6 separate regions of the Homo sapiens genome follow, and all the other regions are linked to region 5. The links come from fine-mapping of genetic effects on gene expression. A gene starts in region 5. Each other region holds a variant in brackets. All regions are shown on one strand. Distances are between the middles of the regions.

Region 1 (5,074 bases), 130 kb after region 5:
TTTAAAATTAGAAAATAAAAAGAGTTGACCTGCTGACTCCATTTCCTCACTCCCACTCCCTCCTCAGCATGGTCCAATCCATCCCCCCATTTAGGGCCACTGAAACTTTCCTAGGCTTACCAATGGCATCTTCCTTGGTACACCAAACACATCTTTTGCAGCCTTTATCATATCTGATCAGCATTCAACTCTGTTGTCTGCCTTCTTCTGTTTGTAGAATGAAGCAAAGCCTCGGCTGAGTGCAGCAGCTCACGCCTGTAATCCCAGCACTTTGGGAGGCTGAGGCGGGTGGATCACCTGAGGTCAGGAGTTCAAGACCAGCCTGGCCAACATGGTGAAACCACATCTCTACTAAAAATAAAAAAAAATAGCCAGGCATGGTGGTGGGTGCCTCTAATCCCAGCTACTCAGGAGGCTGAGGCAGAAGGATCACTTGAACCCGGGAGGCAGAGGTTGCAGTGAGCAGGGATCACACCATTGCACTCCAGCCTGGGAGACAACAGCAAAACTCTACCTCAAAAAACAACAACAACAAAAAAAGAAGCAAAGCCTCATCTGTGGCTTTGCTGAAACCACATGTTTAAGGTTTCCCTCTGACCTCTGTTGCTGCCCGTCCTCAGCATCCTTCGCAGGCTCACCTTCCTCTCTGGCCACTGAGTGCTGGAATGCCTCAAAGCTCTGTTCTACAAGCAGTCCTTGGACTATTTCATGCATCTCTATGTGCCACTGACTTGCAAGTGAGCATCTCCAGATGAGACATCTCTGAACATCCAAGCATGTGTCTCCAAGGGCCTCCATTATCACCCAGATATCACAAAGGCCTCTCAAATGCAATCTGGCCAGCTCACTCATAAGGAAATAACCCAGTGAAAAACTAGGCAAAACATTTGAGAAGACAGTTCAGCAAAGAAGATACACGTATATCAAATAAGTGCATGAAAAGATACTCCACACTGTCAAACCACACCACTACACACCCATGAGGAGGGTCAAAATTTCCACACACACACACAAAACCCAAACCTGGCAATACCAATTATGATGCAGGTACACAGCAACTGGAACTCTCATACTCTGCTGGGGGGAATGTGAAATGGCTTAGCCATTTTGGAAAATAGTTGAGCTGTTTTTTATAAAAAGGCCAGGTGAGGTGGCTCACACCTGCAATCCCAGCACTTTGGGAGGCCAAGGCAGAAGGATCACTTGAAGCCAGGAGTTTGAGACCAGCCTGGGCAACAGAGTGAAACCCTACCTCTACAAAAAAATAAGAATAAAAATTAGCCATGCATGGTGGCATGCGCCCAGGACTCCAGCTACTTGGGAGGCTCAGTTGGGTGGATCCTTTGAGCCTAGGAGTTCAAGGCTGCAGTGAGCTATGACTACACCACCGCACTCTAACCTGGGTGAGATGACTGAGACCCTGTCTCTAAAAAAAACAAGATAGTCCTGGCGTGGTAGCTCACACCTGTAATTCCAGCACTTTGGGAGGCCGAGGCAGGTGAATTACTTGAGGCCGGGAGTTCGAGACCAGCCTGATCAACATGGCAAAGCCCATATCTACTGAAAATACCAAAATTAGCCAAGCGTGGTGACGTGCGCCTGTATTCCCAGCTACTCAGGAGGCTGAGACATGAGAATTGCTTTAACCCAGGAGGCAGAGGTTGCAGTGAACTGAGATCGAGCCACTATACTCCAGCCTGGGTGACAGAGTGAGACTCTGTCTCAAAAAAAAATTAAAAGATTAAAAAATATATAAAGTAAATAAATAATAAATAAGATAAAATATGAAATATAGTTAAACATAAGCTTATATGAGCCAGCACCCCAACTCTAGGCATTTACCCTAGAGGAATGAAAATCTCTGTTCACATGAAAGCCTGTCCATGAAACTTTATAGCAGTGTTATTCATAAATGCCAAAACAAAGGGGTACACCCAAATGACACACTACTGCTTAGGAATGAAAAGAAATGAACTATTGACACATGCAAGAGCACAGATGAATCTCAAATATGCTGTGCTAAGTGAGAGAAGCCAGGCCCCAAGGATTACCCACTGTATGATTCCACATTGGGACGTTCTTGAAAAGGTAAGAGTATAGAGGCCAAGATGATACCAGTATTGCCAGGTTTTAGGAGTAAGGAGAAGATTTGACTACCAAGGACGACCTGGGGAAGTTTTTGGAAGATGAAATTATCATGTGTCCTAATAGCAGTAGTGATTATGTATGCACAATTGTTCAAAATTCTTAGAAATGTATATTCTCCAAATTAAAAAAAAAAAATTCTGAGTTCTGGCCGGGCGCAGTGGCTGATGCCTGTAATCCCAGCACTTTGGGAGGCCGAGGCGGGTGGATCACCTGAGGTCAGGAGTTCGAGACCAGCCTGGCCAGCATGGAAAAACCTCGTCTCTACTAAAAATACAAAAATTAGCTGGGCAGGCTCATTACCTGTACTCCTAGCTGTTTGGGTCACTGAGGCAAAAGAATTCTTTGCACCTGGGAGGCAGAGGTTGCAGTGAGCCAAGATCAGCCACTGTACTCCAGCCTGGGCGACAGAGCAAGAGTCTGCCTCAAAAAAAAAAAAAAAAAAAAATCCTGAATTCTACTGTGAGTTAAAAAATTAAAATACAGTAAGT[C/G]CCCAGTGAAATCAGGATGTCCCTCCACCCATCCCTACCATCACACTGTGGTCCTCCACCCTCCAGCTCAGTGAACGTTGCAACTCACCCAGCTGGGAGGTGGCAGCTCCCTCTCTCGCTACTCCAGGGAGTGCCTCACTCTTCCCATTCGCAGCTCCCCACCTCACTTAGACTTTCTCAGCCAGCCCTTGATACCAGCTCTCTTGGACTTCTGTACCTTCCTAGCTAGTCTCATCATTTCTACCCTTGCCTACTTTTAGCCAATGTTCCATGTAGCAGCCAGAAAGGATTTTAAAAACACAAATTAGGTCATTACATTCTTTTGCTGAAAACTTTTCAGCAAATTCCCATTGCTCTCAGGATGAAATTCAGAGTCTTTAGGGCTGGTCTCCTCCTTCTCACTCTGGCCTCACCGGTGCCTCCACTGTGTTCACCTTCACCCTAGCATGCTGGCCTTCCATTTCCTCAGAAGCATTGAGCATCACACTCCGTCCAGCCCCAGAGCCTTTGACCCATTCTTCTTTTGGTCTAGCAGTTCTTCTCTTCTGCCACTCTGCTATGTTGATTAACTACCACTTTTCTGCCAGATTTCAGCTCCAATGTTCCTTCCTTCTTGCAGATTTCTAGCAGTTCCCAGGCTAGGGCAGGTGCCTTTTTTAAAAAATGTTTTCATATTACCTGGAATCTTTTTTCAGGGCCCTTATAGCAATTTGTAACAAGGCTGAAAATGTCCTGTCCACCTAAGACAGTAGTTCTCAAATTGTGGTCTCTAGACTAACAGCATCAGTGTCTCCTGGGAACTTGTTAGAAATGCACAATTTCAGACCCCGATCCAGACTTTCTGAATCAGAAACTCTGGGGAGGGGTTCCTGAAGCCTGCATTTCAACAAGCTCTTTAGGTGATTCTGAAACACGCTGAAGGTGAAGAACAACCATCCTAGTATATAACTGATCGTTCTATGTCCATGGTAATGAACAACCACAAGAACTGGGTTTAAACCTGTTTAATCAATCAAGGATAAGTTAATTGGATAACTATGCTTCTTTAAGCCAATTATTTTTAATTAGTGATTAACCATCTACATTGTCATCATCAACAATAAAAATAAACCCTTACATTCATATAGGGTAATCAATTTAAGACAGCTTTACAAGTTACCTGATTTGGTTTGCATATTTGTTCGGTGAGATCATTAAGGCAGTCATTATTATCCCCGTTATGTAATGAAAAAAATGACCCACCGGAGGTTAGGTAAATTGTCTCAAGTCACACAGCTGGTAAATGACAAAATTAAGGTAAAAGATATCCAACCTCTAGTCTAGCACCCTATCTGTTGCACCAAGCTTTCAACATGTGTAAGCAATCATTACTGTAGAAGTCAGCTTCATGGATCTTATAGCAGTGTGCAATAAAAGTAATTTAGAACTGACCTCCTTTTAGCAGAAATGTAAAACCTTTTCACCTCCCACATTAACCCGTTTTGTTATCCCCCACTCCACACTTAGTGATAGTAAAGGATGGCATCATCCATCCCTCTGAGCGTGGAGCCTCCACCCTGCAAATAAGGATGAGCACAGCCTCTCTGTTCTCAGTGTGATGCGCCTGGTGAAGAACCTTCACCTGCCAGTGGGGGCTGGGTGGAAGAAGAGAACATCAGGCCTCTTGGCTGGACTCACCTGGAATTTAGCCCTGGAATTTACAACACACAGCTGATGAAAAATTCTGTGGCCTGCCCCTCCCAGGAACATACCATACCCGAAAGTGGGAGCCGACGGGAGAGGGAGCCTTGCGTTCTTGGCTTTACCTGCCTAGGCTGGAGTTTCTGCCACAGTCAACCCTGGGTAAGGAAGGAGTTACGGTTCAAATGCCATGGACTCTCAATGTTCTTACCAAATTTTACTCCATTTTCTTGAATAAATGTTTATTTATTTGCTATATACTCTTAGGACAATTTCCAGAGACTTTAAATACTGAGGTTTGAAATATATTTTTCACCAGTTATGCTGGCTTTGCTGGAGACTGTGGAGCACCTCGTGTGGCCATTCTGGAAGTGGAAATGTAAATGTTTGTTGTTTTTAAGCTGCTAAGATTGTGGTAATTTCTTATGCGGCATAGGAAAGTACTGTGTGGGGAACTAGTGCTCTACAAAATTTACTTTAAGAAACACTGATATAAGCTAATTAAGCATTGAAATAAGTTGAGAATTAAATTAATTTGAAATGATCATATTGAATGATTAATGGAAAATATACTGATTGTACTTATTTCAACAGTGAAGTATTTTTAGATATGATTTTGTTTTTGTTTTTTTTAGACGGAGTTTTCGCTCTTGTCGCCCAGGCTGGAGTTCAGTGGCACTATCTTGGCTCACTGCTACCTCCACCTCCCCGGGTTCAAGCAATTCTCCTGCCTCAGCCTCCCCAGTAGCTGGGATTAC
Region 2 (5,074 bases), 96 kb after region 5:
GATGGGATCTGGCCTTCCAGACATTCTGGTTTGCCAAGATCCCATCTTAAGCCTTCCAAAAACAAATCCAGTGACTCTTCCTGAAAGCTCCCAGTGACCCCTTCCATGGGAGCTTCTACACTGCTGTGTGCAGAAAACAGTTCAATTCCGATTAATCCATGCTGTGAGTGGTTTGATGGCTTCACATACATTCAAGAGGACCTGGAAAAATTAAAGGCCTGGCCCCTTTAAGAAGTCAAGTGGTAAAATAAGGATGTGCAGAGGCGCCTGCGAGTCAGGGACAGCTGAGCTCGTTGTATTACTTTCATCTCTTTAAAAGATATTTTCAGCATCCCTGGCCAGAGGGAGAGAGACCAGAGCTGGGCCCGTGCCCTGGCAGGGAAAAAATGCTTAGGCAAGGAGAAATGAAGCCCCTCTTGGGAATCCTAAGAGGTCATTAACAGGGCCACTAATATTTGTATTCTGGATATATGCTAACTGAAGGCAGGAACCAGGGCCAAAGCCTGGGAAGAACTGCTAGTTGGAAGAAAATAAACAAGGCACTGTGGAGTTTATGTTCAGAGTTAGCAGCCAGGTGAGTGTGTGGGACTTGGGAGGCGTGGCTGCTGTGACGCCTTATCTAGTGGGGGCATTTCACACGTAAGTTGAGGTGGCCAGTTTGACTGCTGCCTAATCCCTGTTCTTATGTGTGTTGCCTGCTGTGTCTCCACTTCTCTGCGTACACAGGCAGCCGAGCCTGCGGTGCCGCCCTTCCCTCCCCACCAGGGACTGGCATCCCCAATTCTCTGGCAGACATGCAGTGGCTTTGGGGGTTTGCCCTGCAAGAAAACTGTCTTAGTAATACCCACATCAGACGAAGGTGAACACGGAATCATCTATGAAAACCAGTGAAAGAAATGACGCTGGGATCTTTGATGTGGGTTTTGAACAAAGAAAAGTTTTTACGTTGAGATGTACATGAAAACCAAGAGTGGTTTGACTGTTTATTTAGAAAACATTTCAAACAAACTTGGGAATCGTCCTTAATCTCCGTGACCCCGAGCTCCCGTTATGCTGGGAGTGGATGCAGCTGTGGGCTCTGCGGATTGAGTCCGGGAGGTCCCCGGGAGCCTTTGATGTCACTGGATCAACTCTCACTGCCACTACATGAACTTCACAGCCCTAAGTACCCTCTGTCCTTTGACATGGAAGCCACCCTTGGAGGGTGTTTGGGGCCAGCTATCTAGTTGGACTTACTTCCCCTGGGGCTGGATTTCAGCCTCTTCTTTTTCTTTTTTTTTTGAGACCGAGTCTCACTCTGTCGCCCAGCCTGGAGTGCAGTGGCACAATCTCTGCTCACTGCAACCTCCTGCTCCTGGGTTCAAGCGATTCTCCTGCTTCAGCCTCCTAAGTAGCTGGGATTACAGGTGCACACCACCACACCCAGCTAATTTTTGTACTTTTAGTAGAGGCAGGGTTTCACCATGTTGGTCAGGCTGGTCTCGAACTCCTGACCTCAAGATCCACCCGCCTCAGCCTCCCAAAGTGTTTGGATTACCGGCGTGAGCCACTGCGCCCAGCCTCAGCCTCTTTTCTTTAGGGAGCCGTTTGTTGAATTCAGATGGAAGAAAGAGACAGACGAAGCCATAGTAAACCTCCCTGGGAGGTCTTGGGGCCATGGTGGCAGGAGGGGGTATATGGCTGTCTTTCTCGCTGACTCAGAGGTTTGAAAAGTCACTTGTCATGGTGCCTGGGTCCCCCACCATGATCCTCAGGGGTTGTATTGAGTTCAACACTATTGAGAGGCAACCACCCCGGTCACTGAGCTCCTGCATGTTTCAGAATAACTCTGGGGTATGTCGTCATCCCATCTAACTGAGGAGGGAACCATGCTGAGAGTTTACACTCCTCACCCAAGGTCCTAGAGTTAGAGAGGGGTAAACCTGGTTCTCAAGACAGTCCTGACCTTTGAGGATTTATGGTGCAGAGGTGGAGAAGCATCACGGAAAGGGGACTCAGACCTAGAACATAGAGGAGGAGGAGAACTGGGATAGGAACTAGGGCAAGGAGGGGATGGCAGAACCCTCCCAGGAAGGTCCACTAGCCCTGGGCACATGAACCTGAGCCTTCAAGAAGGGTGCCTTACGGATGTCAGCACCTCCCCACAGGGTGTACAGCAAGGAGGGCTGCAGGCCTGATGAAACAGGCACATAGCATCACTGTCTTCTCCTGGCTCTCCAGCATTTCTTTCTGGTTTTAAATGCTTGTTGACTCTGACCTCTCACTGCCCTCTGAGAGGTTCAGGAGCTTAAGAAAGAACAGGATTCACTTGTCCACCCAGGCCACCCAGGAAATTCCTACAAATCCAGCTCTAAGCAGAGCTTCTGGGCCTTAACAGCATCCTCCCACTGTGATGGGGTGAGCTCCTGGTTCAGGACTGGGCAAGGAAAGCGCTTC[G/A]TTTATTATTTGATCAGACACACTTTTTATTGAACACCGGGTAGCCAGGAATAGCAAGATCAGAGCAAACTTCCAGTTTCCAGAGAATATGAAGCACGGCTGGGGAGACAAAGAGGGGAAGTCACAGTTTTTAAAAGTCCAGTACGATCCTCAGGGCAGTGACAATGCGGGAGATAGTTCTGTTGCTCCTTCTACCCAGCAAAGTCCCAAGTACCCCGTCTGACCCCTAAGTGGAGACACAGCACTTTGGAAACCCAGGTGTGGTCCTGGCGTGGCCGCCTTATCATGTGACCTGGAGAGAGTCACTCACTCCCCTTCTCTGAGTCTCAGCTTTCTCACCTGTAAAATGGGGCTAACACCACCTACCTCAGGGGAGGACAGCAAAGACCCCATGAGAACTGCTAATAAAAGTGCTTTGAAGAGTTGTAAAGGAACGTATTAAGAGCAGATTGGCATTAGGAAATAGCATTTTACAAAGCACACCCACAGGCCAGACAACATTTTGAAAGCGATGCCCTCCAGGACAGCCTGATCAGAAAGTTCTTTTGCTTTTGGGATGGCCCCTGTCCTTCCCATATGGATCACATTTCCTGCCGAGCAGTGTCACCTCAGCCTCAGCAGAGCCCCTGTGCCTCAGGCCGGCTGGGGGCACGGGGAGTTCTTTCTTTACAAGAGAATGAAAGTTCAACTTCCTTAATGGGCAGATGGTCCGAATTATCCCTAGGGCTCTACTCTGCAGCTGCAGAAAATCAGAGCCTATATTCCCAGCCCCATGTGTTTATTTCTATTCTCCACAACCTCCTTTCTTTCCTCTTGTTTTGCTCTTTCAGGGGGACTGGAAGGCAGGGAAAACAAACATAAAGGAGCTGCAATCTTCCAGGCTTAGGGTGGGCTTTCCCTCTGCTTTTCTGTAGAGGCAAAGTTCCCTGGACTTTAGGTCCCTTCTGGTGCACAGCCAAGCAGGTTTTGGGGTATTTAGTGACCAGCTCCGTTCTCAGAGCCCCTCAAATGCTGTGAGTCCCATTCATCCATTCATTGCCCCACTCATTCATTCCACACCATCTGTTGAGCACTGGAACGTGCAGGCTCTCTGTTTGCTGCAGGGATGTGATTTGGAACCACAAGGATGCAGAATGGTGGCCCCCTTCACGCAGCTTCCCATGGGGAGTGCAGAGAGACACGGAAGAGGGAATCATGGTGCAGGATTTCTCATTAGTGGAGAGCACATGCTGGGGCCACAATCAGGGAAGCCTTCCCAGAGGAGGTGACATCTCTCTGCCTTACTCACAAGGCCCCACAACTAGGGAGTTGTGTAGCCGGGGCTTGATCCCAGATCCACATTCTCCCACAGAGCTTCTCAGCCTTGGCTGTGCACCAAAATCACCTACGAATTGTTTAAAACTGGCCCCTCACACTGGTGGGTTTCAGAGCTTCCCAGGTGCTTCCCAGATACAGTCAAGACTGGAGCTACTGCTTTCAGTCTAAGACTCATTCCCTTAAGCCTGAGAAGAGTGGATCCGGCAGACCCCATAGGGCTGTTGTGAGATGGATGAAAAGCACTTTATGTTTGGAGAGGGCTGTTATTAAATATTTGTCTTAAGCATTCAGCCTGAGAGTCGCCTCTGTGGATTGAAAATAACAAGCCTTTGCCCTTCTCTCTGACTCTTCCATGTGGCAGCTGTGTGACCCTGAGCAAATTTTTACTTGACTTTTCTGAGCCTGTTTTCTCTTCTGTTAAATGAGCTGTAATAACTAACTCATGGAGCTCCTCTGAAGAAGAAATGAGCAAATGCACGCACAAAGCACTTTGCACAGTGCCCAGCCTGTGCACGACGGGACCTCAGTAGATAATCATTCTCTCCTCTTTTTATGCCTGACTTGAGCTCTGTCCTGGGTAGTACCCAGAACTTGGCTGTGTTGTCGCTGGGTTTGGGGATGGCCCTGAGCCAGGTGTGGCCAAGCCCTGCTGGCAGTAGATAGCTCTGAGGTTACCCCAGCCTTGGAAGCCAGTTCTGAGAGATGGCAGCCACTGGCCACTACACAGTCCTCCTAAACCCGCTGGGGGCGGAGTAATAAAACCACTTGCTCAGTTGCGCTGAAAGAAGGAAAAGGCTGTTCCTCATCTCACACCCCAGTGATAGCCATGAATCCCCAAGCACACAGTGTAAAATAAGGTAGGGAATAATCAGATGCAAAACCCTGGGATGTCCAGAGATGCCAGGGCGAGTAAGTGAAACCAGATCCTGGCTTTAAAATCCTGTAATGCATTCCCCAGAGATGCTGTCGGGTTCCCTTCCATTCCCAGAGGCAGGATGAGCAGCTGTCTGGTGTGCTACAGAGAGGAGAGGATCTGTGTGTTTGAAGTAGAGGGGAGGGGTTCAAGGCCAATGTCCGAGACCCCTTCCAGCTCCAGGGTTCAGGGGCATCTGGGGTAAGACTCAGCCTGCTTTGCCTGGGACCTTGCTTGTCTGACATATATATTTACAAAACAAAGAGAGCAAAGAAATGTTTGTTTTGAGAGGAGAATCCCCACATAGTAGATTTCTAAGGTCTGCACTAGGAGCTCAAGCGTGGTCGCAGCCCTAGCATTGCATTCCTGGGCCATTCCAGAGCTGCCTTGCTTAACAAATAACATCCA
Region 3 (5,074 bases), 190 kb after region 5:
TAAATTAGCAAACAGGCTTGTTTGTGACATTGGAAACTTTAAACATCAATACATAGTGTCAGTTCAAAGTGTGTACATGGGAATTAAAACTGGACACTCATTTTTTTGGTTGAGATATAACTCATATACTGTAAGACTCACCCTTTAAAAGTGTACAACAGAGTGGTTTTGTGTATATTAACAAATATTGTCCAGTCACCACCACTATCTAATTCTAGAACATTTTTATCATCCCAAACCCCGTACTCATTATTAGTTGCTCTCCATTCATCTTTCCTCAGTCCCTGGAAACTACACATCTACTTTCTGCCTCTGGATTTGCCTGCCTCTTATGGACATTTTATGTAAATATAATCATACAATGTGCGATCTTCTGCAACTGATTTATTTCAATTAGCATAATGTTTTCAAGGTTCCTCCATGTTGCAGTGTGTGCCAGAATTTCCTTTATGGCTGAATAACATCCCATTGTTATTATTGTATCGATATATCACATTTATCCATTAATCACAGATTGGATTATTTACACTTTTTTGGCTTTTATAAATAATCCTGCTATGAACCTTCATGTGCAAGGTTTTGTGTGGACATGTTTTCTTGAGTATATACCTAGGAGTGAAACTGCTAGGTCACATAACAGTTTAACTTTGAGAAACCATCAGATTGTATTCCACACCAACTGCACCAGTTTACATTCCTACCAGCAATGTACAAGGGTTTCAGTTTCCTCTACATCCTCACCAACACTTGTCTGTTTGATTACAGTCATCCTACTGGGTATAAAGTGGGATCTCACTATGGTTTTGTTTTGTGATTTCCCTGATAAAGATGTTGAGCATCTTTTTATGTTGAATTAACCATTTGCAATTTATCTTTGGAGAAATGTCTACTGAAATTCTTTGTCCATTTTTAAATTAGGTTGTCTTTTTATTGTGTTATAAGAATTATTTTATGGGTATTAGACCCTTAGACAAATGATTTGCAACTATTTTCTCTCGTTCTATGGATTGTCTCACAAATCCACTTTTTTAGTTATGCTTATGAGTTATACCAAGTCTTCATTATCTAGTCACTATCAATGACCATGTACAGCTTCTGTAATTTTTCAAACCTTTACTTTGTATAGATTATATTTATTGAAGCGTAATTTCACATCTGTTAAGTCTAAAACAATTTGAGATTGTAGTTTTGTTTTTTCTATTTTTTTCTAGCAATCCATTTTTATTTTATTAGTGTTGGTCTGTGACAAATTAAACTAGTCCTTTAGCACAGGTAGTTTGAAAAGCAGTGGGCTAGTATGTTTCAGACCTGGAATGTTGCACCCTAGACTGAGTACATCTAGTATGGTTTTTCTAGTACCAATACCTTCCTTAGCCTGACTTTAATAGTATTTATACTGAAGTATCTTACCAATATCCTTCCCTTTAGCTCAGAAGCCGAGAGGTTCTGGGAAAGCTATGAATCTAAGGTTCTGGATCTAGATCCATTTTATTTCTTACCTGAGGGTATCAACCAGTCGTCTTGCAATGCGCTTTCTTCTCTTCAGTCTGAAAACCCAGATTCTACTTATCCCACAGACTGCAGGTTCTGGTACATCTGAACATTGCCAAGCCCTAGGACATTCCGTAGAGCTTGGGGATTCTGGACCAATTGGTTCAGACAGGACACGAAATGCCTGCAATGATATACAGAAGCATCTATAGCTAACACCACAGATGAGTTCACACTGCTTTAAAAAAAAATTCCTTAAATAAGTATCAAAAATTTAACTTATATCTCCAAGTATGTTAAAAAATATTTTCTATTTCTTAAATTCTTATCCCTTTAGTCACACAATGCTTTAAAAAAACTAGTGGTGTTGAGACATTCACAAATTCTAGTGTGTCCCATAGCATTACGAGACTTTCCTCTTAAACAATTGTAAACATTAGACTCTTCCTTTTAATAAAGTATATAAAACTCTCTCATTCTCTCCATCCTAAAATGTATATATGACCACCTAAAGAAACCAGTAACACTAAAGAAGATTTATATCTATTAACTATGAAATTTGGTTGGCATTTCGTTTCTTAAACATTTTTATTTTGAAATAGATTCATAAGAAGTTGAAAAAAACCACTACAGAGGAGCATGTATCCTTCCCTGAGTTTTCCCCAATGATTACATCTTCCATAACTGGTATAATACCAAAACCATGAAATTACCATTGGTATAATGGTGTGTATAGTTTCATGACACTTAATCACACCTGTATATACATTTAACTACCATCACAATCAAAATGCAGAACTATTGAGTCACCACAAAGATCTTCTTCCTCATTATAGTCACATCCACACTACCCCCTCTCCCATCCTCAGTCCCTGACAACCACCAATTTATTCCCCATGGCTATGAGAATGTTATATATTATATAAATGAAATCATATACCATATGACCTTTTGAGATTGGCTTTTTCCCACTCAGCATAATGCCCCTGAGACTCATCCAAGTTGTTAAGTGTATCAATTCTTTGTTACTTTTTATAGCTAAGTAATATTCCATCATATGGCTGTATCATAGCTTATCATTCACCTAAAGCATTTAAGGACACTTTGGTTGTTACCAGGTTTTGGCTATTACTAATAAAGCTGCTATTAACATTCTTGTACAGGTTTTTGTGTGTACATCAGTTTTCCTTTGTTTTACTTAAATGCCCAGGAGAACAATGGCTGGATCATATAGTAAATACATGTTTAGTTTTTTTTTTTTTT[A/TA]AAGAGACGGAGTCTCACTCTGTGGCCCAGGCTGGATTGCAGTGGCACGATCTCGCTCACTGCAACCTCCACCTCCTGGGTTCAAGTGATTCTCCTGCCTCAACCTCCCAAGTAGCTGGGATTACAGGCATGCACCACCACGCCCAGCTAATTTTTGTATTTTTAGTAGAGGCGGGGGGTTTCAGCATGTTGGTCAGGCTGATCTCGAACCTGACCTCAGGTGATCCACCTGCCTTGGCCTCCCAAAGTGCTAGGATTACAGGTGTGAGCCACTGCGCCTGGCCTATGTTTAGTTTTTAAAGAAACTTCAAAACTTTTTCCAGAGTGGCTGTAATATTTTACATTCCTACTAACAAGGTGTGAGAGATCTGGTTTCCCCATATCCTCACTAGCATTTGGTATTGTCTCAATTCTTTACCTACTGTTACCCTTCTGACAGGTGTGTATTTAGTTTTTAATTACGAACAACACAACATTGTTTCTGACCTGAGAGTAGAAGAGAACAGTTAGTTAGCTACATCTTGCCTATTATCAGGACATAACAGTCTACTTCTTTGAGATCGAAGAAGGAAAAGGCCTCTTAAATAAATACACAACATAAAAAGATGTAAACTGTAAAATTAGTAATGTTGAAGGGAAAAAAAGTGCAGAGCTTTTGTAGGTGATATAAATTGTTATCAGCTTAAAATAGGCTGTTATATTATAGGATATTTTATGTAAGCCTCATGACCATAAAGCGAAAACCTATAGTAGATACATAAAAGATAAAGAAATCAAAGCACACCACTACAGAAAATCATCAAATCCCAAGGAAGACAGCAAGAGAGGAAGAAGGGAATATATATAAAACAACCAGAAAACAAAACAAAATGGCAATAGTAAATCCTTATTTATCAATAATTACTTTAAGTGTAAATAGAATATGTTTGCCAATCAAGACACACAGAGTGGCTAAATGGATAAAAACACAAGACTCAACTAAATATTGCCTACAAAAGACTCACATAGACTGAAAGTGAAGGGTCAGAAAAACGACTCCATGCAAATGGAAACCGAAAGAGAACAGGAAGTACCTACACTTACATCATACAAAATAGATTTTAAGTCAAAAACCATCAAGAGACAAAGAAGGTAATTATATAATAAAAGGGTCAATTCATTAAGATAAAACAGTTGTAAATACATATGCATCTAACATTGGAGCACCTAAATATATAAATATTTAGGATTCTGAAAGGAGAAATAGATAGGAATACAAAATTGTAGGGGACTTCAAGATCCTACTTTCAACAATGGATACATCGTCCAGACAGAAAATCAATAAGGAAATGAACTTTTTTTTTCTTTCTTAAGAGATAGGGTCTCACTATTGCCCTGAGCGGAGTGCACTGGTGCGATCATAGCACACTGCAGCTTCGAACTCCTGGGCTCAAGTAATCTTCCTGCCTCAGCCTCCTAGGTACCTGTGACTATAGGCATGCACTACCATGCCTGGCTAATTTTTGTAAAGACAGGGTCTCACTATGTTGCCCAGGCTGTTCTTGAACTCTTAGCCTCAAGCTATCCTCCTGCCTCAGCCTCCCAAAGTGTTGGGATTACAGGTGTGAGCCACTGAGTTCAGCCAGTAAACACTGAACTTACACTTCAGACCTAATGGACCTAACAGAAACACATATAGTATTCCATCCAATAGCAGCGGAATGAATGCACACTCTTTTCAAGTGCACACAGAACATTCATAGCAGTATAAAATTAGAGATCAATGACGGGAGGAAAAGTAGAAAACTGACAAATATGTGAAAATTAAACCACATGCTCCTGAACAACCAATGGATCAAAGAAATTAAAAGGGAAATTGACAAATTTCTTGAGACAAATGAAAATGGAAACACAACACACCAAAACCTATGGAATGCAGCAAAAGCAGTTCTACATAAAAAAAGAAGAAAGATCTCAAGTAGCCTAACGTTACACCTCAAATAATTAGAAAAAGAAGAATAAAGCCCAAAGTTAGTAGAAGGAAGAAAATAAAGATCAGTGGAGATAAATTAAACAGGGACTCAAAAAATAGAAAAGATTCGCAAAATGAAGAGTTGGTTTTTTGAAAGATAATTGACAAACCTTTAGCTAGACTAAGAAAAAAGAAGACTCAACTAAACAAAATCACAAATGAAAGAGGAGACATTACAACTGATTATCACAGAAGTACAAAGGATCGTAAGAGACTATGAATAATCATATATCAACAAATTAGGTAACCTATAAGAAATAAATTCCTAGAAGCATACAACCTACCTATACCAAATCATGAAGAAACAGA
Region 4 (5,074 bases), 110 kb after region 5:
TATAAAACAGGCGCCCATTACAACAGGTGGCATCTCAGATTTGATGAACCAATGTGTCTCACAGTTGCAGATAGTAAGTGGCAGAACCAGAATTCCCAACTGGCTCTCTCTGGCTTAAAGCACTTTCACACTCACAGCCTAGTGGGAAAGTGAACATGAATGACCAAATCAGGGCTGAGACACTTCCCGGGACACAGCCATGCTACCTGCCCACAAAGTCTTAACCATCCTTGGCTTCCTATTTCTCCTACACCCTCCTCCCTAGCAGGCAAGGCTGCTGGTCACCGGGTCTCAAACAGTGGAGAGAAATCTGGTAATCACACTCCTTGATATTTACCCAAATGAGCTGAAACTGACATCCACATGAAAACCTGCACATGGATATTTATAGCAGCTTTATTCATCCAGGCAAAAACTTTGAAGCAACCAAGATGTTTTTCAGTAGGTGAATGGATGAATAAACTATGGTGCACATAGAAAATGGAATACCATTCAGTCCTAAAAAGAAAGGAGCTATGAAGCCATGAAAAGACATGAAGCAACCTTACATGAAGGTTCACTTACTTATTACTAAGTGAAAGATGCCAATCTGAAAAGGCTGCATACTGTATGATTCCAACTATGACATCCTGGAAAAGGCAAAACTACGGAGAAAGTGAAAAGATCAGTGGTTGCCAGGGGTAGGGAGGAGGGAGAGATGAATAGTCTCACTGAATAAGTGGAGCACAGAAGATTTTTAGGGCAGTGAAAAGATTCTGTATGATATCGTAATGGCGAATACACATTATTATACATTTGTCCAAACCCATCGCATGTGCAGCACCAAAAGTGAACCCAAATGTAAATTGTGGACTCTGGGTGATGACGAGGCATCAGTGTAGGTTCATTGAGTGTAACAAATGCACCACTCTCAGGGGATGTTGATAATGGGGGAGGCTGTGTGTAGAGGGAGGGGTGTTGTATATGGGAATTTTCTGTACCTTTCAATCAATTTTTCTGCGAACCTAAAACTGCTCTTTAAAAAAGGCTATTTTATTTTATTGTTTATTATTTCAACTTTTATTTTAGATTCAGGGGGTACATGTGCAGGTTTATTACCTGGGTATATTGCGTGATGCTGAAGCTTGGAGTATAGATGATCCTGTCATCCAGGTAGTAAGCGTAGTGCCCAGTAGTTAGGTTTTCAACCCTTACCCCTCTTCTCCCCTCCCCCATCTTGTATTCCCACCCCCACCCCTGTGTTTAGCTCCCACTTAAAAGTGAGAATATGAGGTATTGGTGTTCTGTTCCTGCATTAATTCACTTAGGATAATGGCCTCCAGCTGCATCCATGTTGCTGCATAGGACATGACTTTGTTCTTTTTTATGGCTGCATAGTATTCCATGGTGTATATGTATATGTACCACATTTTCTTTATTCAATCCGCTGCTGATAGGCACGTAGGTTGATTTCCATGTCTTTGCTATTGTGAATAGTTCTGCAATGAACATATGAGTGTATGTGTCTTTTTGGTAGAATGATTTATTTTCCTTCAGATGTACACCCAGCAATGGGATTGCTGTGTCAAATGATAGTTCTGTTTTAAGTTCTTTGAGAAATCTCCAAACTGCTTTCCACAGTGGCTGAACTAATTTACATTCCCACCAACAGTATAAGCATTCCCTTTTCTCCACGGGCTTATCAGCATCTGTTGTTTTTTGACTTTTTAATAATAGCCATTCTGACTGGCGTGAGATAGTATCTCATCGTGGTTTTGATTTGCATTTCTCTGATGATTAGTAACGATGAGCATTTTTTCATGTTTGCTGGCTGTTTGTATATCTTCTTTTGAGAAATATCTGTTCATGTCTCCTGCCCACTTTTTTTTTTTTTTTTTTTCCTTAGACAGGGTCTTGCTTTGTCATGCATGCTGGAGTGCAGTGGCACAAACGTGGCTCACTGCAGCCTTAACCTCCCAGGCTTAAGTGATCCTCCCACCTCAGCCTCCCGAGTAGCTAGCACCACAGGCATGGGCTACTATGCCTGGCTCATTTATTATTATTATTTTGTAGAGACAGGGTTTCCCCATGCTGCCCAGGCTGAGGCTGGTCTTGAAGCCCTAGCCTCAAGTGATCTTCCTGCCTTGGTCTCCCAAAGTGCTGGGATTATAAGCATAAGCCACCAAGCCCAGCCGCTCTTTTGCCCACTTTCTGATGGGGTTATTTGTTTTTTGTTTGTTGAATTATGTTCCTTATAGATTCCAGATATTAGACCTTTGGTGAATGCATAGTTTGCAAATATTAGTATTTTCTCCCATTCTGTAGGTTGTCTGTTCACTTTGTTGATAGGTTTTTTTTTTTTTTTCCTGTACAGAAGCTCTTTAGTTTAATTAGTTCCCACTCGTCCACTTGTCAATTTTGGTTTTTGTTGCAATTGCTTTTGAGCACTTAGTCATAAATTCTTTTTCAAGGCCAATGTCCAGAATAATGTTTCCCAGGTTTTCTTCCAGGATTCTTACAGTTTGAGGTCTTAAATTTAAATCTTTAATCCATCTTGAGTTCTATAATTTTGTATAAGGTGAAAGGTAGGGGTCCTCCAGTTTCATTCTTCTGCATACGGCTAGCCAACTATCCCAGCGCCATTTATTGAATAGGGAGTCCTTTCCCCACTGCTTATTCTTTTGACTTGGTCGAAGATCAGATGGCTGTAGGTGTGTAGCTTTGTTTCTGGGCTCTCTATTTTGTTCCATTGGTCTCTGTGTCTGTTTTTGTACCAGCACCGCGCTGTGAAAAAGGCTATTTTTTTAAGGTGGGGAGAAGGCTGGCAAAGGGCAGAAGAGGCACAGGGTGATTTGGGGGCTGAAGTCTTGATACAGCTGGGCCCCAGCCCTCTCTTCCTCCTACCCAGGGGTAGGCGGAGTCAAAGAAGGCCCCTGGGGGCGGGTCCTGGTGTATCTAGAGCTGGGTAGTGACAGTTGGCTGCTCCGGCAGGTGGCGTGGAGGCCCCGATGATGATCCGCCTGGTGAATGGCTCAGGTCCGCACGAGGGCCGCGTGGAAGTGTACCACGACCGGCGTTGGGGCACCGTGTGTGA[C/T]GACGGCTGGGACAAGAAGGACGGAGACGTGGTGTGCCGCATGCTCGGCTTCCGCGGTGTGGAGGAGGTGTACCGCACAGCTCGATTCGGGCAAGGTAAGGCGCTCTGAGGGCAAAAAACATGAGGAGAGGGCCTGCACATCCTAGGACTGGGCTCACCTCCAAAGCCCGAGTCCCTTCCACTGCAATTCCGCGAGGTCCCCAGCCTCTCCCCAAATGCTTGCTGCAATAAGAACTCACTGCCCCGCCCCAGGCAACCATCTCCGGTGGTCATCAGACAGTTCTGATGATTAGAACATTCTTCCTTTCGTGGATCTAAGTCCTGTCCTGGTGGTGTCCCATACCAGCCCTTCCCAGTCCTGTGTCCCAGGCACAGCTGCTGTGGTCTCTCTCTCCCTGGCTAGCTCTTTAGACCTTTATAACGTGCTCTCATGTCTCTATTATGTTTTTATTGTTAACACTTATATGATACTCAGTGTGCCAGCCTATGTTCTCAACATGTAACAAATATTTACCCATTTCATCTTTACAGCACTATGAAGTATACAGGTATCATCGCTGTTTTTCTTTTTTCAAGGAGGGAAACAGGATCTTGTTCTGTCATCTAGTTTGGAGGGCAATGGTGCAATCATGGCTCACTGCAGCCTTGATCACTCGGGCTCAAGCGATCCTCCCACTTCAGCCTCCTGACTAGCTGGGCCTACTAGCAATCTCCAGCTAACTTTTCTTCTTATTTTTAATAGAGATGAGGTCTCACTATGTTGCCCAGACTGGTCTCGAACTCCTGGGCTCAAGTACTCCACCCACCTTGGCCTCCCAAAGTGCTGGGATTACAGGCGTGAGCCACCATGCCCAGCCATCCCTGTTTTTCAAATGAGGAAATAAAAGTGCAGAGAGGTTGAGTAACTTGCCCAAGGTCACACAGCTAGCAAATGTCAGACCCGATGTTTAGGCCCAAGCAGGTGTCTTAGGAGTCTGTATTTGAACCACTCTGCTGGGCTGTCTCTGCCTCTCTGAGTCTTTTCTTCTCCAGATTAATCCCCAGATATTCATCTTGCCCTCATATGACAAGATTTGGAGAGTCTTCATCATTTTGGTTGCTTTCCTTTTGACACACTGAAGCACACTGACCTCCTACAGATAGCACAAGAGACTCTGAGGAAGGGGCACAGACCCTTCTTAGGTAGATGGCTGATTCAAACCCTGCATTTGTTTCCTGATGGAAAGAATCAGACTCTTGTGTTGACTCACAACTAAAACAATGGTCCCACATGCACAAACCTGGTACTCCCCACACCCATTCAGTAGTGAGCTTTCCCTTGATGGCATGTCCTGGCCCTGTTGCTTCTGCATTCTGGGTCTTGGTGTCCTGTCTGTAACTAAAGGGCCTGCAGGCTGCATAATGGGTCTCCCAGCCTGGGCCCCCTGGGATTTAAGATGCCACTGCTCACCTGTGGAGAAGACCAGGTGGGTGTGGGGAGGGATTGGGGCTGATCCTCTCACACCCAGTTACCAGGCCCCCTGGTGACCTGTGGATGGCAGCCCACTGACGGCAGGGTTCCCCACATCATGGAGTGGAGCCGGGCGTACCTGCTGTCTTGCCTGAGGTCATTGCTGTCCAACCCACTGTGCTAAATGGCTACAGGGTGAGGGGAGAAAGTGGCATGTCCCTTCCAGATGGGGACTCGGAGCCAGGTCACATCCAGACTGGAGGTGGAAGCCTCCACTCCTCCCAGCCGCCTTCCTCTTCATCCCCATAAGGGGCTGCTGCAGTTCTTGGTCTGAATCTCATCCCATAGATCTCATTGGTAATTGACTGAAAGTGACCCTTGGTGAAATCTGTCGAGCCAGCTGGCAGGGAGTGCCGTCTTAAGGGCCAGAGTTTGAGGGGCGAGTTCGAAGGGATCCGGCACCATGAAGGGCAGCCTACCAGGAAAGAATACTGTTCTCCCACCTAAGGCTTGGGGCTGGATTCCAGCTGGTTTTGACTAAGGAAAACCAC
Region 5 (5,074 bases):
CAGGGCGGGAGGTGGGAGGACAAGCGAGGATGAGCGTGGAGTCCTCACATGGCAGAAAGGCAGAGGATCAAGCCAGCCCACTCCTGCAAGCCCTTTCTACGGCATCCCAAATACATTCATGACTCAAATACCCCCACAAAGGCCCCACCTCCCAACACTGTTGCAATAAAGATTACATTTCCAATGCTTGAATTTAGGGGGACACTAACTACCACATTTCTTGCTAACATACACATCTCTTTAGGGAAGGTCTTTGGACATCACTTTTTTTTTTAAGACAGGATCTTGTTCTGTTACCCAGTCTGGGGTGCAGTGGTGCGATCACAGCTCACTGCAGCCTCAAACTCCTGGGCTCAGTTGATCCTCCCATCTCAGCCTCCCAAGCACCTGGGACTACAGGTGTGCATCACCACGCCCAGCTATTGTTTGTATTTTTTTTTTTTTGTAGAGACAGGGTTTTGTCATGTTGCCCAGGCTGGTTGGACATCATATTTTGAGCACATTTCTGGCTGTTTTTAAGATTACATTCCTAGGAATGTTGGTGAATTGATGGGGGACAAAAACATTTGTTTCCCCTTGAGAGGCAATGGTACAGGGGAGGGGTTAAGAGCATAGACCCTAGGATCACATTGCCTAGGGTTGAATACTAGCTCTGCCACTTACTGGCTACAAGACCCTGGACAAGTCACTTCCTCTCTGTCTCTGTAAATGAGCATAATAGCAGCACCTGCCTCAGGGGGTTGTTGAATAGGTTCAATGAGCTAATATATAAGAAACACATGGTATATGCTATAAAGTGTTGTCTTCTTTTCCTTCTCCTCCTCCGCTCCCTGGGATTATTACCATAATGATACAATTATCATTTGTTCTTTCTGTAAAATGGAGTTTGATGTTGGAGCTGCTTCCTAGGCAGTCAGGCAGGGCAGTCACTGAGAATGAGGACGGCGTTTCTGACTCAGCTGTGGGCGGGCAGCTGCAGTGACACAGCTGAGTCTTGGCAAACACTTTTCATGTACGAAGCCTGACCCTGGAGTCTTGAGGCTGAACTTTTCACCAACAAACAGGAATGCATTCATGAATGTTACCTCTGGGTGCTGTCCTCTGGAAGCCATCTGCATAGCCTAACTCTGCCACCCTGGCTTGGACAATTATGGTGATTTCTCTGATGCCCCTGATACTACCACCTCAATCTGAATTTAGCAGCTCCCTTCACATATGGTTAGATTGCCTTTAAAGAGATTTTTTTTTTTTTTAGAGATGGGGTCTCACTATGTTGCCCAGGCTGGTCTTGAACTTGTGGGTGGGCTCAAGCAATCCTCCCACCTCAGCCTCCCAAAGTGCTGGGACCACAGGTGTGAGTCACTGCACCCGGCCTAGATGTCCTTTTTCAAACGTAAGCAATCATGCTCAGGTTTAGGATTATTCGTGCCTGGGTCCCCCTCCCATACTGAATTGCTATGGACAGCCAGCTAGTCTTCATCCTGCACCCCCCAGCCCCTGTGCAGCGTTAATGAGCCAGAAACGCTGATTCTGCTGCTGAGTTCCGTGGAACCCCCTGGGGCATTTTCCTGACTACCCCCAGTGTGGCCAATCCGTGTCCACTGAGGATGAATGTGACTCCAGGAAAATACATGAAGTAACTCTGTGCCAAGCTTGGTGAATGAATTGAGCCATGCCAATTCTGTGCTATAAATAAATTTACAAGACTGGTTTTCTTGCGTGGCTCATAAGCCAGGTCTAGCTGCCACTCCCCCAGAAGTCTTCCAAAAAGTATTTTGAGCAGGACCTTTAGACTGGGGTGTTGGAGTCCCAAGGCCAAGGCCGACCGCGCTGCTCTGGGCCCAGCGGGCGTTCCCACACGGGGCTGTAATGCCACGATTGGCCGCAGGAGGGGGGCCGTATTCCAGACCCCATTGCAGAAGCCTCCGCAACTGCTCCAAGAACTTTATTTTATACGGACTGGCGGCGAGAGCAGCTGCAGTTCGCATCTCAGGCAGTACCTAGAGGAGCTGCCGGTGCCTCCTCAGAACATCTCCTGATCGCTACCCAGGACCAGGCACCAAGGACAGGGAGTCCCAGGCGCACACCCCCCATTCTGGGTCCCCCAGGCCCAGACCCCCACTCTGCCACAGGTTGCATCTTGACCTGGTCCTCCTGCAGAAGTGGCCCCTGTGGTCCTGCTCTGAGACTCGTCCCTGGGCGCCCCTGCAGCCCCTTTCTATGACTCCATCTGGATTTGGCTGGCTGTGGGGACGCGGTCCGAGGGGCGGCCTGGCTCTCAGCGTGGTGGCAGCCAGCTCTCTGGCCACCATGGCAAATGCTGAGATCTGAGGGGACAAGGCTCTACAGCCTCAGCCAGGGGCACTCAGGTGAGTCTTGGTACTAATTTTGTCCTATCTCCTGGGCATGCTGTCTCAAAGACAGCTGGAGGAGACTGGAGTGAACTGGATGGAGAGGAGTACAGAGTTTGGGAAACTTCAGACCTAGAGCCTGGAGGTGCCTTCTCCAGGTGGGAAGGTCCCCGCCTGCTGGGCCCGCAGATATCTGCCGGGCCCTCATCCAACTGCCTGGGCTGGAGAGAATGTGAGCCTGCATTTGGGGTGCCAGAGGGAAGCTATTGCCTTGGTGGCTACTCCACCTGACTCATGTCACAGCTCAAGAGCCTACTCAGGGTGCAGATGGCTCAGGTGACAGCTCCTCTCCATGGCTTCGTGTGTGTGCATGTGTGTGTGTGCATGTGTGTGTGTGCATGTGTGTGTGTGTGCATGTGTGTGTGTGTGCATGTCTGTGCGTGTGCATGTGCCAGTGGTGGGATATATGTGGGGAGAGGTTATTTCTAAAATATCTGTCTCTGTCCAGCTTTGGGTTATGATTTAGCTTAACTAAGTACAGTTAGAGGAGGAAAACATTTAAAACCTCCTTAGTGATTCTCTCTTTGGAGAAGGGCCACACTCATGTGATTTTTTTCCTTGGTTTTGATGAGTTTAAAGTGAGGTAATCCAAAGAAAAGCCATAAACCCTGCAGAGTTAGATGCGGGTACCCAGAGAAACTGACTTGGTAGCAGCAAATGAGGCTCGTGCTACCCACTCAGAGGAGGAATTAATGGAGTCCTTCTGATCTCCAGAGAAGGATTGAAGAGCCAGGGTCCTGATATCAGCCCTAGAGTGCATTCGCGATTGCCTTTTACAAAGGGAACTTCAAACAGCTTTGTTTCTGAGACTGGCTAGGTAGGAGGGAGGCCTTGGGAACCTGGACACCCCCTTACCTGGCTGCCAGGCAGAGTCAGAAGATGCTGGGGGATGCTTTTTCTCATCAGACTGCCACCAGCTCCCCTGAGTGACCTTGTTCATAAAGTCATGCCACATGCATTATCTCACGGGAGGCTCACAGTGATCCTGGGTGACCAGCAGCTACCCACCTTCCCATCTTAGAGGTCATGTACCTGAGGCTGAATGAGGTCAGGTAATTGAGCCAAGTTCCCCCAAGAAACCAATACGCAGAGGAGCTAGGATGGGAGCCCTTGGCTTCTGTGTTCCCTGCATTCCTGCAGAGAGCCAGGCCTGCAGGGCGCAGATGGCCCCAGGGCACAGGGCTGCAGGGCACAGATGGCTGAGGGCTTTTCCAGCTCTAAAATGCAGAATCTAGAAGCAGATCCCTGGCTCTGAACCTGCCCTTCTAAGTGCCTTGGGTGAAATTGTCTGGAAGTAAATCATGATTGCCAAGAGGTTAGTGGAGAGGGTGACACCTCCCTGTTAGAGCAAGACCTCCCTCTTTGAGTTGCAAGTTGAGGTCCAGTCTCCTTGGGCTTCATCCACAGGTCACTGTGGCTTCCACATCTCGCCCATGTGCTTCAAGCTCTCAGAGCCCTGCCTCAGTCCCAGGATCCCCACCTGCTGGAGTACACTGGCTGGCAGTCTGAGGTGGGATTCTCTTCTCTGCCTGATCTGGGGCCCAGAAAGTGGTCACCAAAGGGGCTGACATGCAATTCCCAAACAAAGCAACCCTGCAGCTGAGCCAGTGCCCTGTGTAGGAAAACTGTGCCCGGGGCCTCTTCCCGCTCTGATATCCATTCCTTCCTTTGCCTCTTTGGTCTGGGATGGCTTATGTTTAAAATGGGAGGGACGGAATGCAAATGCCATCAGCCTACCCCCAACACAGTGCTCCTGGGAGGAGCACTTGCCATCAGTTTCATCTTCTAGAGCACAGACTTGGTCCAAAGACAGTAAGATCCATGATCTGAGGGTCCCAATGCCTGCTTCCTCCCCCAAGAAAGAAAAACAGCCCCCAAGAAACCTTGGGCAGACAGAACATGCGTAGGTTTCAATTCCAAGTAACAAACATGAGTAGAGTTGTCTGAGCTTTTCCAAGCCCTGTGCACTCACATCTGGCCCCGCTCGGCCCCAGTCCCTCTCCCCAGCAGATCCCCTGGGCTCCTGCTGGACCAGCTGAGGGGTGGGGAGGAGGAAGGAGACAGCTGCCCTTCACACACATTCTGGCTAACAAGCCGTGCATTCCAGCCCCGTCCCAGGAGCTGACCAGAAGAGGAGGAAGGTGGAAATGGCAGTGGGGCCTCACACCTCCACTCCCCAGGGGCAGCGCCCTGTCTGGCTCTGTGTGGCCTCTGGGAAGCAGAGGCTATTGCCTTTGGCAGAGGGAGGGTTATTGCAGGCAAAAGAGACATTGGCCTCCTGCTTCACAGCCCCGCAAGGAGTGAAGCCAGAGGGAGGGCTGCCGCACACAGTGCTCATGAAATGAGGGAGGGTCCCTTGCAACTTAGCAGTGCTGGAGCTGCCCGCGGCCCCACCTAGAGGCCCTGCCTGGGTGGAGGCATTGGGTGGAGGGCCGGAATTGGGAGCCCAGTGAACTGGACACCACTGCAGCACAGGGAAGCCAGAGTGGGTGGTGTCTGGGGCAGGGAGGAGAGATCCTGGCAGAGCCGAGGACCACCCCCTGTTCCATCCCTCCCATAGGCTGGAGGAGAGGCCCGCAGATACTGGGAGCCCCAAGGCTGTGTGTGTGCACATGCGTGTGTGTGCCCGTTATGGGGGATGTACAGAAGGGCTAACAGCAGAG
Region 6 (5,074 bases), 100 kb after region 5:
TAGTAATTCCATACCTGCAAATTGATGGATAAATAAATATGCAATTGAAAAAATAAACACAGACATTGATAAAATATACATAAAGAATTAATACAGATAATGCATTTTTAGTGCTGCATATCTGTGCACGGGAAGTAGAATCACCCCGGACTTCAACAAATATTATCACTTTCCTCAAAAGCCAAGGCTGGTTTATCCTTCCCCTGCGTGCAATCGTTGACATGTTCATTTTCAAATGCAAACTCAGCAATGGCTGTGCTTCACAAAGGCAACCCTGTCTTCTTGGTTCTCCCATAAGACTCAGGAGAAACCAAGCTGTTTCTATGAATTTTAGTTAGAAGCATTGCAGTTCCAGGGTTAAAGTAATTGTTTTTCATGTAACTGCTCCATCAAAAGGCATCTTGCATCAAAGTCGTGATGCAAATTGGTGGACCATGCTCAGGGATCTTCTGAAGAAAGGATTCTGGGAAAGAAAGGAGGGTGTAGATGGAGAACTGGCCCGAGGGCTAAGTCTCAAGTTCAGGCCCCAGCTCTTCTGCTAGCTACGGGATGACTTGGGTAAGGCACGTCACCTCTCTGGGCCTCTGCTCCCACACGTGTCATGCAAAGAGTGTGGACTGTGTCATCTTCAAGTCTCTACCAGCTGGCAAATGCTATGCTTCACCATCATTTGTGATTATTGGAAAAGCCCAAAGATGATGTCATAATTACCGAAAAATCACTCCAAGCACTAAGTAATGGGACATCTGTTGCCGACAACTAAGCTAATGGAAGTTGTTCCTAGTGATATCCTGAGAAAATGCTAAGATTCCTTGTCCAGACCCATGCCTTGATCTTCTCCATGACCTGGCCTCATCTGTGCCTCAGCTGTACCCTCTTTACTGGGGAACAAGCTCAAGCTTTGAGAGATTTGGGGCCTGTAGAAGGAGGGTGGCTGAGGACCATGGGGTTGGTCCCGGTGGGGCCTGGGTGAAGGGCAGGCTCAGTACAACAGGTTGAGGAATGGGGAGGCAGGTGCTGTGGTCTGGGGCTGCAGTGAGGCAGAGAGCTCCAAGCCGAGGCTGGAATTGACACTCCAGAAAAGTTGTGGGGTGAAACAATGAGCCCCTTGATCTGGGAGACAGCAAGGAGGCTACCCAGCCAGGAGCCAGTCTCCTGCCCTGTGTTCCCTCAAACCACTTTCCTCTCCTAGGGTTACACAGTGAAACCAGGCAGGGATGCTCTGGTCTGGGCTTTGAGGTGACAGCACTTTTCTCTTTCTGCTTCTCTGTATCAAAGGGAAGAACCTTGGTCACAGGGTGTTGATGGGGCTTGTAACCAAACCGAAGTGGGATCTTCTTGCCTGGCATGGTAAAGCCAAACATCCATACTGAAGTTGTGCAGTGGGAGGAAGCATGGTGTTTATTTGCAAGGCACCAAGCAAAGAAAATCTGGTAGCTCACACTTAAGACTCAACCTCCTGGATGGCTTACAAGCAAGGCTGTTTAAAGGCAATGGTAAATTTCAGGAGAGCAGAAGTTACAGGCAAATTTCTAAATCAAGACATGGATGTTATACATTGGTTTGGCCTAAAAAGGTGGGAAATCTGGAAGCAAGGGCTTACAGGTCATACATGGCTTCAAAGACTTTCTGATTTGCAATTGGTTAAGGAAGGGAAACTTTGTCTAAAAACTTGGGTTCAGCAGAAAGGAATATTAAGGTCTGGCCTGTGGATGTGACTTCTTCCAGGTCCTCAGAGCTAGCTAGGTGCCTGGAATTTTCCTTTATTCTGTGGCACTGGAGAATAAAGAATAAACACAATCATTAGCTGGGCATGGCAGCATGCACCCTGTAGTCCCAGCTACTTGGGAGGCTGAGGCGGGAGAGAATGGCTTGAGCCTGGGGGACAGAGGTTGTAGTGAGCCGAGATCATGCCACTGCACTCCAGCCTGGGTGACAGAGCCAGACCTTGTCTCAAAAAAAAAAGTCCGTCAATCAGAGTTCAGGCCTCAGTTTCCCCTCATTTGAGGTCTATATGCCAGCAAATCCATTTGGTTCTGGGTTTCTGAAAAACATCCAGCTGGGTTTCTGAAAAACACCTCAGGGACATATGTTAAGATGTTCTCTTTAGTTTCTATAGAGAGTCATCAGAGGTTGACTCTAACTTCTTTGACTATTGCTTTAAGCTACTATTTCTTTCTTTCTTACCAAGTTGCTCATTTACTTCTTGGGGCTAGCCTAGAATTTCCCTTGAAGATACTCAAGATTTTCTTTTATTTCCATGTTTGGGGGCCTAGCAGCCCCTAAGTCCCTGCTCCATCTCGGGCTTGTGGTCCCCAGTTCTGGGGAAGCAGGGAAAAGATGAACAGAGATGAGCCCTGTGGATATCTGGGTGTCTCTGCTATGGGGGGCAGGGGTGGGCATTACAAGAAAAAGCTCTGCCAAAGCCTTGTGGGATGGGGATTGGAATAAGCTGTCAAGAACAGCCTCTCCTTGTTTTTAGTAAGGAATAGCTCTTGGTGTTTCCCTTCAGCTTGGGTTTTCCAGCCAAGTGATGCTATGTGCCGGTGCCATTCCTGCACAGAGCTGGTAGGGACCAGCCTTGTAGCCAGTACCATCCTCTTAACTTGCAAACCATGAAGGCATGGACAGGTAGACCCCAGTCTGCAGGTTAGGGATCCAGAACAAGAGGAAAAGTGTGATAGTCTCTGCACCTAACGCCCTCACCTGAGGGGTGCAAATCAGATACCCACACGGGAGTGGTATGGGGCAGGGTTTTCTTCCGGGTTGCTGATCCTCATTTGCTCAGGAAGGGTTTTCCAGGGCTCAATGTGGTATGATGCCAAGGAGGAGGTGAAGGTGCCTCGCAGTCATTGAAGGGCAGTTACTAGGGGACGTGGCTGCAACCTCGAAAGCCTGGGGTCCCATTGCTCATCACCAGCTCTCTTGCCCTTTGCCCTCTACCTGGAGCATCTGCTCTTGCTTTGGAGCCTAGGAGTCTCTGAATTTCACACAATCAAGAATCCCTGTCTCCCATTTTCCTCCACTGCCACGTGCAGAGAGAGGCATCTCCCTGACTCCAGTAGCCCCGTTCCCCCTGCAGGGACCCTCCTGGGGGGCATCTGAGGAAAAAACTCCCTGGACTGACAGGAAGAGTCTTGGGGAAGTCACGGACCAGGCTGAGGCTGCCTCTCAGTCACCAC[T/G]TCTGATTAAGTCGGGGCTGACACATTGTGGGGCAAGAGCATTTCCCAGTGGTGGTTGGTGGCTTGGTGGGAAAGCTTTGACCTGGGGCAGAAACTGCCGGGAAAAAGCAGCATTTAAACCCTCTGCCCACAGAAACCCAAACCTCTTAAATGATGACGTCCTTCTCAGGCTAGAGGGTAGTCACTGTTGGAGGGCGTTGGTGATTCCCCAAGTGTGTTGCTGGAGGTGGCCTCATTGCTCAGCTCTGGGAAAGGCTCCTGCCTGCCTGCCTCCCCTATACCTCTTCAGGGGTAAAGGAGGCCAGAGACACAAGTTTCTGAATTTAGACTCTGAGTTCCTGAATCAGGGCAGCCTACATCATAAGCAAGTCAGACCTCAGCCTGTGGTTTCCCAGAGAGGTGGTAACAGAGCTGAGATTTTGTTGGGTGGGGAGAAAAGGATGCAAAATCCACAGCTTAGGGCCATGCTCTGTGAAGTGGAGCTACAACAAAATGTGGCCTCTGATTTGGGTGAGTCCAGGGGAGAAGGTGTGGCTTTCAGATTTGTGTTGACCCTGCTGGGGCAGGCAGCATCTGTTGACCCTGTGGGCAGGCGGCCCTCCACCATGGGGGGAAGCCCTGAGTCTAGGGGATCTGGGGACAGGTGGTGAGGAACAGGCCTCCATGCTTAATGAACCGACACTGGGGTCTGGGTGGAGTGGTGCCTTGTGCAGCCTCGCCCAGGTGCTCTCTAGTTCTTTTTCTCCCTTGAGGGCACTTTTCAGTTCCTGAGATCAATGTGGTCCCTACTGGGGAGACCATAGGAGCCCTGCAGGCCATGACTTTGCTCAATGCATGGTAAGCATGGGCCATGGGCCAGAGACATCCTTGAAATTGATGCTTTGCATCCCGTGATTATGGTTATCATATGTTTTCAATTTTTTGAAGGTGTCTTGTTTCCAAATATTCTTCTATCACTTCTATATACATTGAAACCTCTTGGGAATTTCAGTATTTCAGCATCCAAATGACATTTTCCAGACTTCCCATTGCACCCACCATGATCATCTGACAGCCATGTCCCCATTCTCTCACTTGAGATGTACGGTCATTGTAACAGCCTGAGCTCTGGGTCCAGAATCCAGAGTCATCTCAAGTAGAGAAGGCAGCAAGTATGTGATTAGAAGTGTTGTGATGTAATAAAGAGGATGCTGGAGATTTGGGGCCCTGATGTTGGATTCTCCATTCAGGTTGCCACCAAAGCCCTGGACTCTGGGGAGCCATGCCCTCCAGCCAGCACCTGCCCATCTGGGTCCATATTAATGAGTCCCTCCATTCATGCATGCCTTCCCTTTGCACAGGCTGGGTATCTCAGTGCACCGGGCCCTGTACCAGGTCACGTGATCCTCAGAAGGCTCACAGTGTCCTAAGAGAGTAAATAGCAATAGCAATTATGACACAAAGCTATAAGCATGTACCTAGAAGGGGCCCTGTTGGGTGTGGGGACCAGGGAAGGAGAAGAGGCATCTAAGCTGAGATCTAAAAGACAAGGAAAGCTTAGGCCAGAGTACAGAAAGGAGTTTTCTGAGGTGGGGGAGTCCACGTCCTTCCTCAGCTCATTCAGGTCTCCACTCAAGGCCTTCCTTCTCTACTCGTCCAAAATGGCACCTGCTCTCACTCCCCACCCTCTTCCTTGTTCACTTGTCCAAGACAGTACCTGCCCTCTCATTCCCTCCCTTGTCCACCTGTCCAAGATGGTGCCTGCCCTCTCTCTCATTTCCTTCCTTGTCCACTCGGCCAAGATGGTGTCTGCCCTCTCTCTCATTTCCTTCCTTGTCCACCCGGCCAAGATGGTGCCTGCCCTGTCTCTCATTTCCTCCCTCCTCCACTTGTCCAAGATGGCGCCTGCCCTC

Alleles and levels. Alleles are on the strand shown, and positions count from the first base shown. SD is a standard deviation of normalised expression in the study named. Not every link is listed here.
For the expression in fibroblasts of the gene that starts at base 1,953 in region 5, C is the high allele of the variant in region 1 and G is the other (moderate effect, 0.60 SD a copy in GTEx).
With allele T in place of G in region 6, the expression in monocytes after R848 of the gene that starts at base 1,953 in region 5 is higher (large effect, 0.77 SD a copy in Quach 2016).

Evidence for each region. PIP is the estimated chance that this variant, and not a neighbour inherited with it, causes the effect.
Region 1: its variant is fine-mapped to the expression of SCARA5 in fibroblasts (GTEx, PIP above 0.99).
Region 2: its variant is fine-mapped to the expression of SCARA5 in whole blood (TOPMed, PIP 0.95).
Region 3: its variant is fine-mapped to the expression of SCARA5 in whole blood (INTERVAL, PIP above 0.99).
Region 4: its variant is fine-mapped to the expression of SCARA5 in whole blood (TOPMed, PIP above 0.99).
Region 6: its variant is fine-mapped to the expression of SCARA5 in monocytes after R848 (Quach 2016, PIP 0.95).

What each region holds. Positions count from the first base shown.
Region 1 is chr8:27,855,882-27,860,955 of GRCh38, reverse strand. No RefSeq gene overlaps it. Among named protein-coding and RNA genes, the nearest start is that of PBK, 21 kb to the right of the region's middle. The variant C/G (reference allele first, on the strand shown) is at 2,637.
Region 2 is chr8:27,893,299-27,898,372 of GRCh38, reverse strand. All of the region lies in intron 7 of SCARA5 (scavenger receptor class A member 5), which reads left to right. Among named protein-coding and RNA genes, the nearest start is that of MIR4287, 9.7 kb to the right of the region's middle. RefSeq lists enhancers at 2,539-3,450, 4,963-5,074. The variant G/A (reference allele first, on the strand shown) is at 2,437.
Region 3 is chr8:27,796,142-27,801,215 of GRCh38, reverse strand. It overlaps ESCO2 (establishment of sister chromatid cohesion N-acetyltransferase 2), which reads right to left. Exons shown (of 11, transcript NM_001017420.3): 10 at 1,500-1,675. Among named protein-coding and RNA genes, the nearest start is that of ESCO2, 24 kb to the right of the region's middle. The variant A/TA (reference allele first, on the strand shown) is at 2,755.
Region 4 is chr8:27,877,663-27,882,736 of GRCh38, reverse strand. It overlaps SCARA5 (scavenger receptor class A member 5), which reads left to right. Exons shown (of 9, transcript NM_173833.6): 8 at 2,971-3,168. Among named protein-coding and RNA genes, the nearest start is that of MIR4287, 5.9 kb to the left of the region's middle. RefSeq lists an enhancer at 4,612-5,074. The variant C/T (reference allele first, on the strand shown) is at 3,074.
Region 5 is chr8:27,989,552-27,994,625 of GRCh38, reverse strand. SCARA5 (scavenger receptor class A member 5) reads left to right here and starts at 1,953. Exons shown (of 9, transcript NM_173833.6): 1 at 1,953-2,369.
Region 6 is chr8:27,884,956-27,890,029 of GRCh38, reverse strand. All of the region lies in intron 7 of SCARA5 (scavenger receptor class A member 5), which reads left to right. MIR4287 (microRNA 4287) reads left to right here and starts at 3,914; the gene lies at 3,914-3,991. The variant T/G (reference allele first, on the strand shown) is at 3,183.